Regions from separate parts of the Homo sapiens genome. Here region 2 is linked to region 1. A link means that fine-mapping ties the variant in region 1 to the expression of a gene that starts in the linked region. Tissue or cell type: whole blood. Region 1 holds a variant in brackets; the other region holds the start of a gene. All regions are shown on one strand. Distances are from middle to middle.

Region 1 (8,110 bases):
TAATTTAACATTAAGTGAGCTTATGCTGAGAAATGGTGGCCAAAAAGAGCCAGCGTTATCTGAACGTATATATGATGAAAAGATTGGCTCTTCTCCTTGCTCACTCATCTCAATTCCATGAAATGTATCTAGAATGAATTGAAATGAAGATGCCTGATAAAGGGGGCAAAGGGCATGGGCAGCTTTGAAGACTCTCTTTCTATAGTTATCTCTGCTGATAGCATAAAGCTAGGAGACAACACCTTGGCTTTCTCTGTTCCTTCCAGGGTGAGCTGCATGGAGAAGATGGGCCTCAGCCTAGACAGGAGCACATTAATAATAGCGCAGAGCTAATATTTATTGATCTAGAGACCTTTATGAGTTCTTTTATCTATTGTCTCACTTAATCCTCCAAACAAACTTCTGGAGTAAGTACTGTGGTGATGTCTCCTACGTGTTCACCAAGCTGTTTCCTCTTCCCCTAGGGCACACAGTCAAACTACATTCCCCAGCCTCCTTGCAGATAGGTGCAGCCACATGACTGAGTCCTTGCCATTGGAATGTGGACAGAGGAGATGGAAACCTTCCCCAGGCCTGGGCTAGAAAAAAAGCCCATGTGGTCCTCCACATCTTCTTTTTTTCCTCATATATCAACAGAATGCAGAGGAGGACAAGGCTCTGGAAGATGCTGGAATCATGTGATTGAAAAGCCTGGGTTTCTGATCAATGAGGGAGAATAGGACCACCCTGCCAAACAGCACTGGATTATGATATGAGCAAGAAATAGGCCTTTATTGTGTCAGGCTACTGAGATTTCAAGTCGTTTGCTAGAGCAGTTAGCCAGCTCTGATAGGTGCCATTGTACTTCTCATTTAATAGAAGAGGAAGCTGAGCTCTAGAGAAATTCCTGAGTTTGTGAGTAGCATGGAACTGAATCTAGGGTTTAAGGTTTGTGGGACACTAGAATTAGAAAATCCCTTCAACCAGTTCCATATTTTAAATTCCTATATTATGGTTTGCTTTCAAGTTTCAAGTATCATATGACAGTGAACCTCCAGAGATACTCTTGAGGATATTTCAAGAAATTGGTTCCATATGAAAAACAATGCTGGTATAAAAGCAATGGAACTTCTTATTCTTATTCCAATAGCTGAATATTTACTTGGAAATCAGAATACCTCAGTACATTCTAATTGGTCCTCTTCATTTTTAACTGGGCACACTGGGGTTAGAAATCTAACACAAGGGAATTATATTTTAAAATTAAATTATATTTTAAAAATAATGCATGGATAGCCCGTTTCCCAGTTCTTAGTCCCATTTGCTTCATTGCAAATGAAGTGATGAAATGAAGTCATTGGCTTCATCACGAAGTGCCAAAACTTTTCAAGTTACTGGAGCGTAAGTTGCATGAGAGCAGGGCCTTTGTTTGCCAGTCTGAATTCCTAGATCCTAGAATGGTGCCAGGCACATTATAGATGCTGAGTAAACACTTATTAACGGAACGAATGACTTACTATGCTCCACTGATTTTTTTTTTTTTTTGAGATGGAGTTTCGCTCTGTCGCCCAGGCTGGAGTGCAATGGCGCAATTTCGGCTCACTGCAACTGCCACCTCCCAGGTTCAAGGGATTCTCCTACCTCAGCCTCCCAAGTAGCTGAGATTACAGGTGCCCGCCACCACGCCTGCCTAATTTTTGTAGTTTTTAGTAGAGACAGGTTTCACCATGTTGGCCAGGCTGGTCTCGAGCTCCTGACCTTAGCAGCCCACCTCAGCCTCCCAAAATGCTGGGATTACAAGAGTGAACCACTGCACCCGGCCGAATTTCTTCGTAAAAATTTGGCTTTGCTTTTTAAAATCATACACAGAAGAAAGGCAGAACATGACCTCTCCTTTATAGACAATGAACTTGTCTGATATGATCATTGTTACCAACTCATTAGCTGAAACTTGTCAGGATTTTTGATGAGTGCTCCAAACAATCTTGTCCTTTGTACTACTGTACTATCTCACATCCAATTACTAACCAGGCCTAACCCTGCTTAACTTCTGAGGTCAGGTGCGTTCAGGGTGGTTCTGGCCATAGACCACTGCACTGTCAAACGTGAGGTAGATGGCAATGAGTATATGCAGAAGTATGATTTAGAGATGTGGGAATTCAGTGCGAAAATGTGGTTGTGAATTAAACAATGGTAATGCAGTGTTAATTATTGTCTCCTAAATACAGTTTCAGACTTTAAGAGTTATTCTCTTTAAACAACCGCAAGAAACCCCCCCACAAAACCCAACTCTTGCATAGTTTGGTGAAGGGGTGGGGTGGGAGGAGTGCTATCATTTTTCATACACCTACTTGGTGCCAAGAGCTTTGTATATTCTATCTCATAGAATCTTTACATGATCCTAAGGGGTTAGTAGTTTTAAGCCTATTTTACAGGCAAGGAAACTGAAATACAGATTAAGTAATTTGCCTAAGGCCATTGACTGAGTCCATGGTAGAGCTAGGGTTCAATACTTGTTTCTCTGACTCTGGAGAAAAAAATGTTCTTTCCACACATCATGGTGGTAGAATTTCATTTTGGGAATGAGCTCAGATGCTAAAAAATTCCTTTCTTTGTAATTGTAGCTGGATTCAAGGTTGTCTTACTTTCTAAAATGATGGTTCTTACTAGTGTAAGGATTGGTACCCTATATTTTTGTTTCATTTGGCATTGCCTCAAGGGTCCTCCTGAAAGTGCAGTTGGCAAACATTTATTTTTATAAGATATATACACATACATAATACATATTCTCCCACCCAGTTCACCGTCACCACAAAACTTGAGAACATCTTGAAAATAACTGGTGATCCTCTGAATGGCTCCAAATCAAGACCCAAATTACTTCATTACTTTTCTAAATACTTGTGCAATATAAATGGGCTGTGAACACTCAGTCAAGTAAAGGGAAATTTCCTGCCGCTTTTTTTTCTTTTTCTTTTTTTCATTTGGGCTGATGAGAAATAAGAATAAATCCTCTTAGAGTTAATAATGTGAAAACCAAAGCTTTCAAAAGCAGCTCAAAGGCAGCGGTTGGTATTGCACACTTTATTTAGGAACATTTTCCTACAACTGCTTCCTTCTCCTTTCTTCTTCTTCTTTCTTCAACTTCTGTTGGGCCCGCAGAAATTGTAGTTGTCTTATGTTAAAATTCTGGTGACCAGTTAAGGGGCAAACATCAGGCTTAGCAATTGGTATCTGTACTAAGCAGTGACAGAAATCACGATTAAGCTGTGATGCACATAAAGGCAGATGCTGTGGCATATTCA[G/C]CATGGTATGCTCCCTGCACTGAGCACACAGTAAGTGTTCAAGAAATGCTTACTGGAAGAATTAATTAGTGAATTGCAGCTTATCAAAGATCACTTGGACTCATAGGGAATATAAAATCAGAGTCTGTTGGATAAGACAGCCATCTGTGTCCAAGTTATGGAGACCTTTCCAACCAGTTACTTCCTGGAGTTTCACTGAGGGATAAACTGAGCCTTCGAAGCATCTAGGAGCTGACAATCTAGCAGTCACTATCAGGCATGTTGCAACAAACACCCAGATGGCCCTGGTGACGGGAGAATTCTACTCTTCTGAAAATCAAAAAGTATTGATTGGCTCAAAGAGTGAGGAGGAACACATATTCAGTTAAAAATATAAGCTCTCCAGAATGTTTTGAGGGGAAATGTTAAGTTTTGGTTGACTTGGGATCTGATTTTAGATTGCTGATAAGACAAAATGTATGTTCTAACTGTTGGGTGCATAGTAGGGTTGCTTTGGAACAGTGTCTTGTGTTGATGAGTAATTCTGCGCCTTGAACCTGTGCCACCACAATTTCAGTTAAAGGCTTACAAGTCCTATCAGCTTCTCAGAACATTTTTTTTTTTTCAAAACCACTTTTGTGTTTTCTGAACCAGAAATCTGCTTTAGTGCTTAGCAGGTTTCATGTTTCAGAACTGTACTTTTAGAGTGTCTCTAGACAACACTGAAAGGCACACAGAGAGAAATGTTGATGTGGCTGGGTGCTTGGTTTGTTCCCCGTCTTGGTTGGCGGTTCGGGGTGGGGTGGTGGAGGGGGAGGGTTAAGAATTATAGCAGGTGTCTGCTGGCTGAGAGGTCAGTAAACAATTCCAGATGCTTTGAAGGATCTAGAATTTCCAGCAGCTTGGCTCTGGTTGACATTTAAAAATTAACATACTTAATCCTCTAATCATATATGATCACCCCCAACAAAAGTGATAGAGGGTCTCCCTTAGATAAAAAATTGGAATTAATATGTACTTTAAAAGTAGATCTAGTTTTAAAAACTAGATGGTGTTACAAGTACAGTAATGAAAGCCATTTTCTTTCATTTTTATTTGAAAAACAATCTTATACATCAGAAAGCTTAGTAAATTAATTCATTGTCTTTGTTTTGGAATTTCCTAAACTGAGTAGATAGACGGTGAGCATCACGATAGCCAAAGACTGTAACTGAAGGCCAAGAATACTCTGAGGTTGGATTTTAGGGCACTAGGAAGGGCTGCTAATAACGACACTCTTTAAAAACTCTCACTTTCTCCCTGTAATAATTATAAGAATAATATGTCTGACATTTTTAAAAAAAGACTTTAGAATGGGAGTTTTCATAATTTAAATCAGACAAGAAAAACAATAAAACGAACTTAGGCCATAGAAGTCTAGGAGCCAATTCTAACAAGAACAAACTTATAAAACAAAGCCTTCAGAATAGAAGCCTAAGTTGATAGATTTAATTTTCAACAAAAAAAGAACATCTACATTCTTCTGCACTAAACTGTGAACTCCATCATAGCAGGGATGAAGCCCACATGAGACATGGCAGGTACTGAACAAATATTTGTTGAATAATTAAAATAAAACAATCTTCCTGTTCCAAGGAGATCACCTTGGGAGGCTATACAATTATTCTACTCATTGCTCAAAATACTTTTGGGAGGTTTTTTTTTGGAAATTGCCACTAGAGCAAGAGCTCTATCCATGGATAGAAATAAGGATGTGTGAGTTTCATCAGAGAAATAATTACATCTTTATTTTCACTAACTTCTTTTTTTTTTTTTTTTGAGACGGAGTCTCATTCTGTCACCCAGGCTGGAGTGCAGTGGCACCATCTCGGCTTACTGCAACCTCCACCTCCTGGGTTCAAGAGATTCTCCTGCCTCAGCCTCTCTAGTAGCTGGGACTACAGGTGCGAGCCACCACGCCCGTTGAATTTTTGTATTTTTAGTAGAGATGGGCGTCACCATATTGGCCAGGCTGGTCTTGAACTCCTAGACCTCATGATCCGCCTGCCTTGGCCTCCCAAAGTGCTAGGATTACAGGCGTGAGCCACTGCGCCCGGCCTATTTTCACTAACTTCTAATTGAAATTTAACATCTTTTTCAATTATGAATATAGGCAACAACCCACAGTAGTATAAACAGTACCTGTGACTTTGCCACCTCTATAAATTATAGGTACAGTGCTATTACATTAGTGATTGCAGATCACTACATGTCTCACTACTTCAACAATTGTAGCAGTTTGTGCTCCTACCATCAAATCTTATTTAACGCATTAATAAACAACCTTATATGTTATTATCATAAATTTGGTCTTTAAAATGTTTTCTAGCCTTGGCAACATGGTGAAACTCTGCCTCTACAGAAAAAAAAAAAATTAGTTGGGTATGGTGGTATGCGCCTGTAGTCCCAGCTACTTGGGAGGCTGAGGTGGGAGAGTCACTTGAGCCTGGGAGGCAGAGGTTGCAGTGAACTGAGATTGCACCACTGCACTCTGGCCTCACAGAGTGAGACCCCGTCTCAATAAATAAATAAATAGGCTGGGCGTGGTGCCTCACACCTGTAATCCCAGCCCTTTAGGAGGCCAAGGTGGATGAATCATTTGAGGTCAGGAGTTCGAGACCAGCCTGGCCAACATGGTGAAATCCCGCCTCTACTAAAAAATACAAAAATTAGCCACGTGTGGCGGTGGGTGCCTGTAATCCCAGCTACTCGGTAGGCTGAGGCAGGAGAATCACTTGAACCCTGGAGGTGGAGGTTGCAGCTAGCTGAGATCGCACCACTGCACTCCAGCCTTGGCGACAAAGCGAGACTCCGTCTCAATAAATAAATAAATAAAAGAATGTTTTGATAGCTGTATTTTAATATTTTGATTTCTTTCGCAATCTTATATGTTTCATTTTCTGTAATTTCAGATATTTTTCCTTTTTGATATTTTTTTCCTTTTAAAAAGAAGTTTAAATAGAGATGAGGTTTAGCCATGTTGCCCAGGCTGATCCTGAACTCCTGAGCTCAAGCAATCCTCCTGCCTCGGCCTCCCAAAGGGCTGGGATTACAGGTGTGAGTCACTGCACCCAGCCTAATTTCAGGTATGTTTCTGAGAAGTTATCCATAGGTTTCACAAACACATGAAGATGTGTCCATGTCATAAATATGGGTAAGGACTCCTGCTCTAAAGTCTACAGGACATTTTTAAAAAATTCTAATTGGTATAAAATTTTATTTACTTATTTATATCTCATAAACACCTCTAATACCATGAAAATCTTAGTTTTTTGAGAGTAGGTTTTGGAAATAACAGTCACCTGGAGTCAAGTCTGGGAAATAAATTGGATAGCTGAGTCAACAAAACAAAAGAAGAAAGGGCCATAAAATAAAATAACATGACTTTTTCTTGAATTTAATTCTTTCTTTCTCCCTAGATATAACATATCTAGATATAATATATATCTAGGCTGGGCGTGGTGGCTCACGCCTATAATCCCAGCACTTTGGGAGGCCGAGGCAGGTGGATCACTTGAGGACAGGAGTTCGAGACCAGCCTGGCTAACCTGGTGAAACCCCATCTCCACAAAAAATACAAAAATTAACCGGGCATGGTGGCAGGCACCTGTAATCCCAGCTACTTAAGAGGCTGAGGCAGGAGAATCACTTGAACCCAAGAGGCGGAGGTTGCAGTGAGCCAAAATAGTGCCACTGCATTCTAGCCTGGGTGACACAGTGAGACCACATCTCGGAAAAAAAAAAATCTATATATATATATGTGTGTGTGTATATATATGTATATATACGTGTGTATATATACATATACATACACACGTATATGTGTGTATATACACATATATGTATATATGTATATATGTGTGTGTATATATATATAAAAAATTTTTGTGCCTCACTAAAGCTTTTGTGCAAGCTACTGAACTAGAAACTGGGGATACAAAGATAAAAAAAGGCATGGTCTGCCTCTAGAAGTTTATAGGGTTGGAGGAGAGTGGGAGAGGGAGGTGGGGGCTCCTAAGTAGTGGTGACCCTACTCCATTTTTTTTTTTTTAGATGTTCGGTCTTAGGCTAAAACTTCTGATTCATTAAAAACTTTTGTTTGTTATGTTACCTTTTGCTAACTGTAAAGTTAAAAATTTCAAGTCAGGGACTGTTTCTTCTGCTTTTGGTTCTATCTCAGGAATGTGGTAAGTAGAAGTGATGCTAAGAATTATGTCCAAAAGGTCACATCTGTTTTTGCAACTTAAATTTATTTTCTCAGAGTGGTTCTACAATTGAAGTTTTGTTTGTCAGACTGCTCACAAAAATCTGCTTACATAAGAATGTGCATTTAATATATCCTAAACAATATATATATCCTAAATGCTGTGCATAACAGTGCTTCTCTGGTTAAATGCATTCAAAGTTCTAACCCAGATGCCAACAGCTCAGAGCCTCTCTTGATAGAACACTCTTCCTGTCAAGGCTAAAATGAGAGCAGGAGAGGTTAGTTTCCATTTAACTCCCGGTAGCTGCAACAGACAAGCCTCACTCTATGTCAATGATTCTTCTGAGGTCCTGTTTTGAAGAACAAAAGCACAAAGGACAATCTGACCTATCTTGCTTTTTTCAGTGTTAACCGCAGTGTGGATAACTTCTAAATAAGTCAGTTTATAATTAAGCAGTGTGGTTAATGAAACAGGAAAAACAAACAGATCATTGGAACAGAACAAAGAGTTCAAAAATGAAACCATATATTAAAAAAAATCTGGTAACAAACAAAAACATAATTTAACATAACATAATCCAGTTCTTGGGGTAGAGAAGGC
Region 2 (8,110 bases), 85 kb after region 1:
TGATTCTTTTTTCTTTTTTTTGAGACAGAGTCTTGCTCTGTCGCCAGGTTGGAGTGCAGTGGCCTGATCTCAGCTCACCGCAACCTCCACCTCCCAGGTTCAAGCGATTTCCTGCCTCAGCCTCCCGAGTAGCTGGGACTACAGGCGTGTGTCACCATGCCCAGCTAATTTTTGTATTTTCAGTAGAGACAGGCTTTCACCCTGTTGGCCAGGATGGTCTCGATCTCTTGACCTTGGGATCTGCCCACCTCGGCCTCCCAAAGCACTGGGATTACAGGCGTGAGCCTTGCGCCCGGCCCAGATGATTCTTAAGTACAGCCAATGTGAGAACCAACAGGTTACTTGATTGCTAAGATTCTTCCAGCTGCAATGTCTTCTGTCCCCATCTGCATGTAAAGACAGTACTGCTAGGGTTCACTTATCCAGACAGTAACGATTCATGAAAAACCCTCAACTAAAGCCCCATGTTCAACTTTTCCCGAGAAAGTCACCTCCCTTTGGTTTGTCCAACAATATAGTATTTAAAATCTGTATAATGGTCTCAACCCTCATGGTCTTTCATGCTTTTAAGAAAGAGGAAGGATTAATGGGTAATAAAACTATTCAGGAATGGCTTAGTTAATTATTATTCTAGGTCTTGCTATAAATGGTATCCTAGGGTTCTGAAAAAAATAATTAATGTAATTTAGTCATCCAGCACTAAGCCCTCATTTGATCTGAGGACTGCTACATTCAGGCTGAAGGTAGAGAGATGAGTAGTCTTTTGCACTTCAGAAACTCCCAGTCCAAGGTGATAATAACAACAGCAATAATAATAACAGCTGCAGCCAAAATGGGAAAATACTTATTGAATATCAGGCATTGCTAACAGGTGCTTTTTATATGTTATTATTTTAGATCCTCACAACAACCCTGCTAGGTAAGCATCATTTCCTTCATTGTATTCCTGGGGAAACTAAGGCCCAGAGAGGTTAGGTAACTTGCCAAGGTCACACAGCTAAGAAGTAGATGATCTGCCATTCTGATCTACGTCTATAAGATTTAAAATCCCATGCTCTTTCCATCATATGATAAAACCTCTAGAAAGAGAGAAAGGATTGAGAAATAGAGATAAAGATGGCAGGGAGAGGGTTAACTTCCATGGGAGAGAATCCGGCCCAGGTGGAGGAATTGCTGTGAATTGCTCACATGAAAGGTGTTAAAAGAAAATCAGTCTTGTAATTCTGTATCTTAACTATGTTTGGGGCTCAATCCTGTTAGAAGGTACAGCACTGGAACATGTAAATTCATTATGAAGAGCTAGTTCTTCTTCAGTCAGTCCCAGCTCCCTCCAATTAGTCTTCAAAAATAAACCCATTGTATGTTTCGTGGCTTAGCAACATCATTTTTCAGCCAGTGTGAGCTCTTTGGTTCTTAGCAGATTTTCACTTTTACTGACTGCCATCAGTGATATAAAATGTACCAGGAGGAGAGGATGGTGGTGGGCACAGCTGTGACAACGCCTTTCTCTATGCTGTTCAGATCCAAACACGGTATGAGCCGGCACGTTCTGAAGGCGCGCACACACACACACACACACACACACACACACACACACACACACATACACATACACAAACACTATTCCAAATGAGCTAAGACCTGGAGAACACACTATACACATATATACATTAGCTAACTCAGGAATCTAAATATAAATTTATTTTTGGAGAAACCCCCTGGGCTAAAATAATTCACCCACAAAGCCAGATGTAGCTTGAGGGGTAATAAACATGCTATGGCCTAGAGCAGGAAAAGGGAAAAAAGAATGAAGCAGTACATTTTCTTAATGAGGCTTTTTCAAACCACCATTTCATGTTGTAGCCAAAACAGATAAAATCACCAAAGGAACTTAGGATCTTGAAGAATATTCAGAGACTGTAGAAAGTGGTTTAAATAATAGATATTTAAGAAAAGATTCTAAAAAATATTTATTATGTTTATAAAATGGAAATTTCATGTTTATACTAAAAAAAGATTTACTATTACACATAAGTATTACACGAAGATGTATATAAACACATTGCATATGCAAAATGTATACACATAGACCACATGGCCAAATATGTGATATTATAAGGATAAGTTGATCTCACAGCAACATTTTGATGTGGAAAATTACCTCCACTCCAGAAATTATAAGTAAGGAAGATATACCCTGGCATTGCAAATAATAGCATAGGGATATGTCATTACACAACCTTGGATGAGATAACATATCAACCCGACATAAATACAGGCAACATCTATTCCTGAAAGGAATAAAAAAATGCTTACGAAGATACAGCAATGAGATACTGGGCTAATCGAATGACAAAAAAAATGTGATGTGTTCTTACATTGCTTACCCTAATTTTTAAAAAAGATTTGGAAAAAACAGAATAAAGATGACACTATCTGAAATAGTTGGTGTGCTTGAAATCCAGTTTTTAAAATTTGAAGGTAGGAATACTTCAACAAGATCATAAGCTTATACAACAGATCATAAGCTTATTTTTCTGTTTCAGATGCTTATCAAACTAGAAGTGAACATTTTGAACAGGTTTGTTTTCTAGGTGAAATCCTCTTTCCACATCCTACATAGCAAATACTCATGCACACCCACGCACATGAACACACACACACACACACACACACTTCTCTTTCTCTCCTTACAACTGTAAATCCATACCATGAGACTAAGGATGCTAACAACCAAAGAATGTGTTAAAGCAGCATTTTACCTCTTTGCTGATCAAACACAGAAGGGGTGCTGAAATCCATGGTAGCCTGTCTCATCATTTACCATCAGAATGGCAAAAAGCATCCAGGTCTCTAGAGAGGAGAAAACACCATCTCAAACCTTACTGTCAACATGACAGTCAGAGGCAGCATCGTTTGCCAAGACCTCTGTTTCAGGATTAAATGTGCATCAGAGCTGCAGGTTGTTGTCAAGGCAAGGTGATGAAAATAGGTAAATGCTATTCCTGTAAATACCTGCTAGGAAAAGAGTTACTCTATGGCCTCATTCATCAGCTGTACATGGGCATAATACACCCTCCACCCCCAAATCAATAAACACAATTACTCAAACTCCAAAAAGATAGTAAAATTGTATGGGCCACCTGCCTTGGATCTGGGCTGGAAAAACACAGCAGATCACGGAGCTTCAGCAGCTGGAATGTCGCTTTACACCAACAGAAATCTGAATGGGTGAGTGAGGATTCACAGGGCCAGACAGAGCATGTGCAAAGCTGCCAATGCAGTTCGCATTCGGCTGTGCTTTTGGCGGAGTGAGAACTGCATTTGGGTCATGTGAGCAGAGAGTGCCATCTCAATGGAATAGGATGTAAATATTGTAGCAGGAGGCTGCTGGCCATGTGCTGTGTGGAGTAATTATCCATGTTGGCAGTCTTCTTCACTCCCCTTTCAGCTCCGTTCTCCAATTGACAGGGAGGATGGGGAAAGGCGTCATTTGAAAGGTGACATTTCAAGGCTCGAGTGTCTGTGGTGATAAAATTAAAACAGTCTGCTGTCACAAGGGTGTTTATTGTAGCATTACATGTAGTAAAACCTGAAAAATCACCCGAATGTACCTCATTCAGGGAGCAGCTAAGTAAATGGTAGTAAATTCGTACTCTAGATTTAAAAATCTGACATAAATAAATCTGTGTATTTATCTGGTGACATGTCACTAATCTATTGTTAAATGAAATAAACAAGTTATATATTTCATTTGTTCGTGTTTTAATAAAACCGGAAACCACTCACTGTATACATTATTTTTATATATTCAGACGAACACTGAAAAAGATGTAGAAAGATACGTACTAAACTGCTAATATTGGTTCCCTCAGGCCACTGTGATTAGAGTAGGAGATTTCTAACTTGTTCTGTATCAATCTCTGTATTTTTGGCTTGTTAATAACCAGTATCTATTATCTTGTATTTGTAATAAAAATATGATATACTAAATTCAAACAAAGTTCTATATTCTAGGCACAACCAGATTTTTGGATAAGTCAAATAGCCATATAGTAGATGCTTGTTGAATCTAATAATAAACACCAGCTTCCTTTGCCCTTGGATAGGATGATTCTGAGGCATGGTGTTTTACTCCGTTTGCCATTTCCCTTTCAGGATTAAACTCCTTCAGGGTTAAACTCCACTGCCACCTGTGAGAATAGGTCTAATAACGTTCTTTTTATGGGCTGCTGTTCCCTCCCTGTATTACTTTCCCACGTTCCTACTGATATTTCCTGCACTTCTCAATAAGTTACTTGCATTGGAATCATTGTCTCAGGGTCTGCTTTTACGGAAACCCAAATTAAAATATTTCTCCACAAGAGGGTACATTTCATAAGGGCAGGGTCTTTGTCTACTCTTTCTTTGTCTGCTTTGTCCACTCCATGTCCTTACAGCCTAGCACAGAGAGGGGCACAAAGGAGGTGCTCAGTACATTTCAGTGCATGAGTGAAACTTCACTGAAGAACTTTCCTTGCTCAAGCTGACAACCTGCTCACTGACATTGTAACATTGGAACCCAATTAACCATCCTTCATGGGGTAAGAACTTTCTGACAAGAACTTCTGTAGTCCTTGAAATTTTCTAGTCTAAACAAGAAACCATGTACTTGAGGATTGGTTCTAGGGTTTCTGGAATTGGCTCTCAAATCTGATTAAATTTAAGGATTCTAATAGCTTTATTTCTAGGAGTAAAGAGAGCATTGATAGTCCATGGTGTGAAGTGGTAATAGAGATATGCAAAAAGCTGCACTGAATATTCCTAATTAATCACTGGACACAACAGGCAAGGAGTTGGGTGACTGTGTAGATGATACCCTCAAACATTTTTGGAAACTTAATGAATATGGCTGGTTGCTCCTAATGTCACTGGACAAAGTGATGAAAGAAAAGGATTAGCTCACGGATTCTAATTCCCAGCTCAGGTGCCATATAGATGACCTGGAGGTGTGTATGTGTACCCTGAAGGAGAGTCTTACCTCCTGTAGCCATGAGGCTGAGGATGCTGCAATCAAATGCAGGCTCTCATGCTGCAGCTGCCTGAATTACAATGCAAATTGAACTCCTGAATTACAGCGCAAGTCAAACTCCCAGCTTCACAGGATGTCTGCTGTTAAAGTGAGGACATTGATTGGGAAAGTAGAGGATACTGTAAATTGGATAGAGACATGTGAGAAGACCCTGATGAAGCTGGGGGACACTGAGCATCTAAACTCTGAGGAGTCTTCTTTGCCAGTGGAAGTGGACTCCCAATCCCTAGTAGAAGCAGCCTCCCCATCTCCAGTGGTAGCAGCCTTTTCACCTCAGTCTGAGAAGATTGACTCTGAATTGCCTGAGGAAACTGTATTGGCCTTCCTTGAGGCAGCTGCCGTGCACAACAATGCTGATTCTCTTCAGGAGCCACCACCATTGTTCCTCTGCTTCTAGACCTATAACTAGACTCAAGTCCCAGCAGCCCCTAAAGGTGAGGTGCAAAGTGTGACCCATGAAGTACATTATATTCCAAAATAATTACTTGAACTTCCTAAAAATCCAGGAAACATGGGAATGGATACTAAGGGAGTGAAATAATGGTGAAAGGAACATAAAGTTAGATCAGGTTGAATTTATTGATATTAACTAATTAAGCAGAAATTCTGCATTTACTGTTGCAGCTCAGGCAGTTATAAAGTGTTCTAACAGTCAGGTTAGTGGGTTGAAACATGGACCAAAAAGTGGCCCAGGGTGAGCAAATTGGAAATACTGGACTTGCCTTGGTTTAATGTGGAAGAGATTCAAAGGCTTAGGGAGATTGGAATGTCAGAGTGGATTTGTCATTTAAGAACTACTCACCCACACTGGAGGGTCTAGAAGACATACTTTTAGCAGTACCGTGAGGAATAGGAATAAATCTGTGAGGGGAACCCCAGCATCTTTGAAGAGTTCTGTGATTGCTCTTCTCTGCAGACAGTGAGAACTGCAGTCATTGAATTGGGAAACCTAAATGCAGTGGGAATAATTGGATCCTAGGATGGTAGGGCTAAGTGGTGGTACTCAACTGCCAAAGACAAGGTGGGCATAGTTACTGTTGTGGAAAAAAAATAGAATCATGGCACCCCAAATTCACTATGCCACAGGGAAATTTAAGCTTGAGAACTGAGTCATGCAAAAAGCTGTCTTCTTTCGTTCCCAAACAGATAGCTGTATTTTCACATGCTGACTTTATCATATGTAGAGTTACTGGGCATGAGAGAAATGTGTAATTGCTTTTTCCCCTATTCCCTCTTTTTTTTTTTTTTTTTTTTTTTTTTTTGAGACGGAGTCTTGCTCTGTTGCCCAGGCTGGAGTGCAGTGGTGTGATCTCGGCTCACTGCAATCTCTGCTTCCCAGGTTCAAGCAATTCTCCTGCCTCAGCCTCCCGAGTAACTGGGATTACAGGCCCCCACCACCACACCCGGCTAATTTTTGTATTTTTAGTAGAGACAGGGTTTCACCGTATTGGCCAGGCTGGTCTCAAACTCCTGACCTCAGGTGATCTGCCCACCTCAGCCTCCCAAAGTGCTGGGATTATAGGCATGAGCCACCACGCCCGGCCAACTCTATTCCCTCTTTCCACATGTAATATGTAGACTCACTGAGTGCTAATCAGAGCCTCACAAAAAGGTGACCACTTGTTTCATTGCCTATCCTCTCTCCTTTATTTCCCTCCTCTTCTGCTTGCTCTGTCCTCTTTAAATACTGAAGTTCCTAAAACTCTCTTTGGAAAAAGCCCAGGTCACAGATCCCACTGTGACCTGTGTTTCTTTTTCCTGGTTGCATCCTCAACCTTGGCAAAATAAACCTGCAGTCAATTAAGATCTACCTCAGTCACTCTTTGGTTTATGCTGTAATGGACAGCAGAGGTCCAAGCAGCAATCAGAGTTGTCTGAGTCATAGAAACCTATGGCATTGGCTAGTTGATCATGGCGTTTCTCAAAGTAAAATAGATAGGAAGCCTATGAAATTCTTAATCTGCATAAGCAGAAAAGCTCTAGGTTAAGTGACAAAAGTCTAACACGAATCATAAAAACAGAGAATCATGATCCCTCAATTAATTCCCAGAATTGAGCCTGTTTACAAACCTAAAACCCCTTAAATGAAGGGGAGGCTGGAGCCCTTGAGGAAAGGCCCTGGTACCCTACTAAATGTTTATACTGTTAATCTTTCTCTCAGTTTTCCCCAAAAGAGATGTATGGCCTTTTTACTAGGGTAACTGTGCATTGAGAAAAGAGAAATAATCAGACCTCTCAGGGCTTACTGGACATTGGCTCTGAGCTGACACTAATTTCAGGAGACTCAAAATATCACTGTGGCCTGCCAGTCAGAGGAGGGACTTTTGAAGGTCATGCGGTCAATGGGATTTCAGCTCAGATCCATCTCACAGTGGGTCTAATGGGCCCCAATGCCATCCTGTGGTCATTTCCCCAGTTCTGGATGCACAATTAGAATAGACATACTTAGCAGCTCACAGAATCTCTACATTGGTTCCCTGAATCGTGGAGTAAGGGCTATTATGGTGGGAAAGGCCAAGTGGAAGCCACTAGAACTGTGTCTACCTAGGAAAATACTAAACCAAAAGCAATACGACATTTCTGGGGGAACTGTAGAGGTCATAAAGGACCTGAAGGATGCAGGGGTGGTGATTCCCACCACATCTCCATTCAACTCTCCAATATGCTTTCCAATTTGGCAGAAGACAGGTGGATCTTCGAGAATAACAGTGGATTATAGTAAGCTTAACCAGGTGGCAACTCCAATTGCAGCTGTTGTTCAGATATGGTTTTATTCCTTGAGCAAATTAAAACACTCTCTGGTACATAGTATGCAGTTACTGCTCTGGCAAATGCTTTTTCCTCTCAATACCTATTAGTAAAGACCACCAGAAACAGTTTATTTCAGGTGACAAGACAACATTCTTGATGAACATAAATCCAAAAATCCTCAACAAAATACTAGCAAACTGAATCTAGTAGCACATTAAAAAGTTAATCCACCATAATCAAGTGGGTTTTATCCCTAGCATGCAAGGTTGATTCAACATATGCCAATCA

What was found. PIP is the estimated chance that this variant, and not a neighbour inherited with it, causes the effect.
Region 2: it holds the start of ANKRD55, and the variant in region 1 is fine-mapped to the expression of ANKRD55 in whole blood (INTERVAL, PIP 0.98).

What each region holds. Positions count from the first base shown.
Region 1 is chr5:56,144,779-56,152,888 of GRCh38, forward strand. All of the region lies in intron 6 of ANKRD55 (ankyrin repeat domain 55), which reads right to left. It also overlaps the pseudogene RNA5SP184. Among named protein-coding and RNA genes, the nearest start is that of ANKRD55, 84 kb to the right of the region's middle. RefSeq lists a cis regulatory region at 3,692-4,192. The variant G/C (reference allele first, on the strand shown) is at 3,285.
Region 2 is chr5:56,230,094-56,238,203 of GRCh38, forward strand. ANKRD55 (ankyrin repeat domain 55) reads right to left here and starts at 3,237. Exons shown (of 12, transcript NM_024669.3): 1 at 3,148-3,237; 2 at 2,763-2,853. The coding sequence starts at 2,820.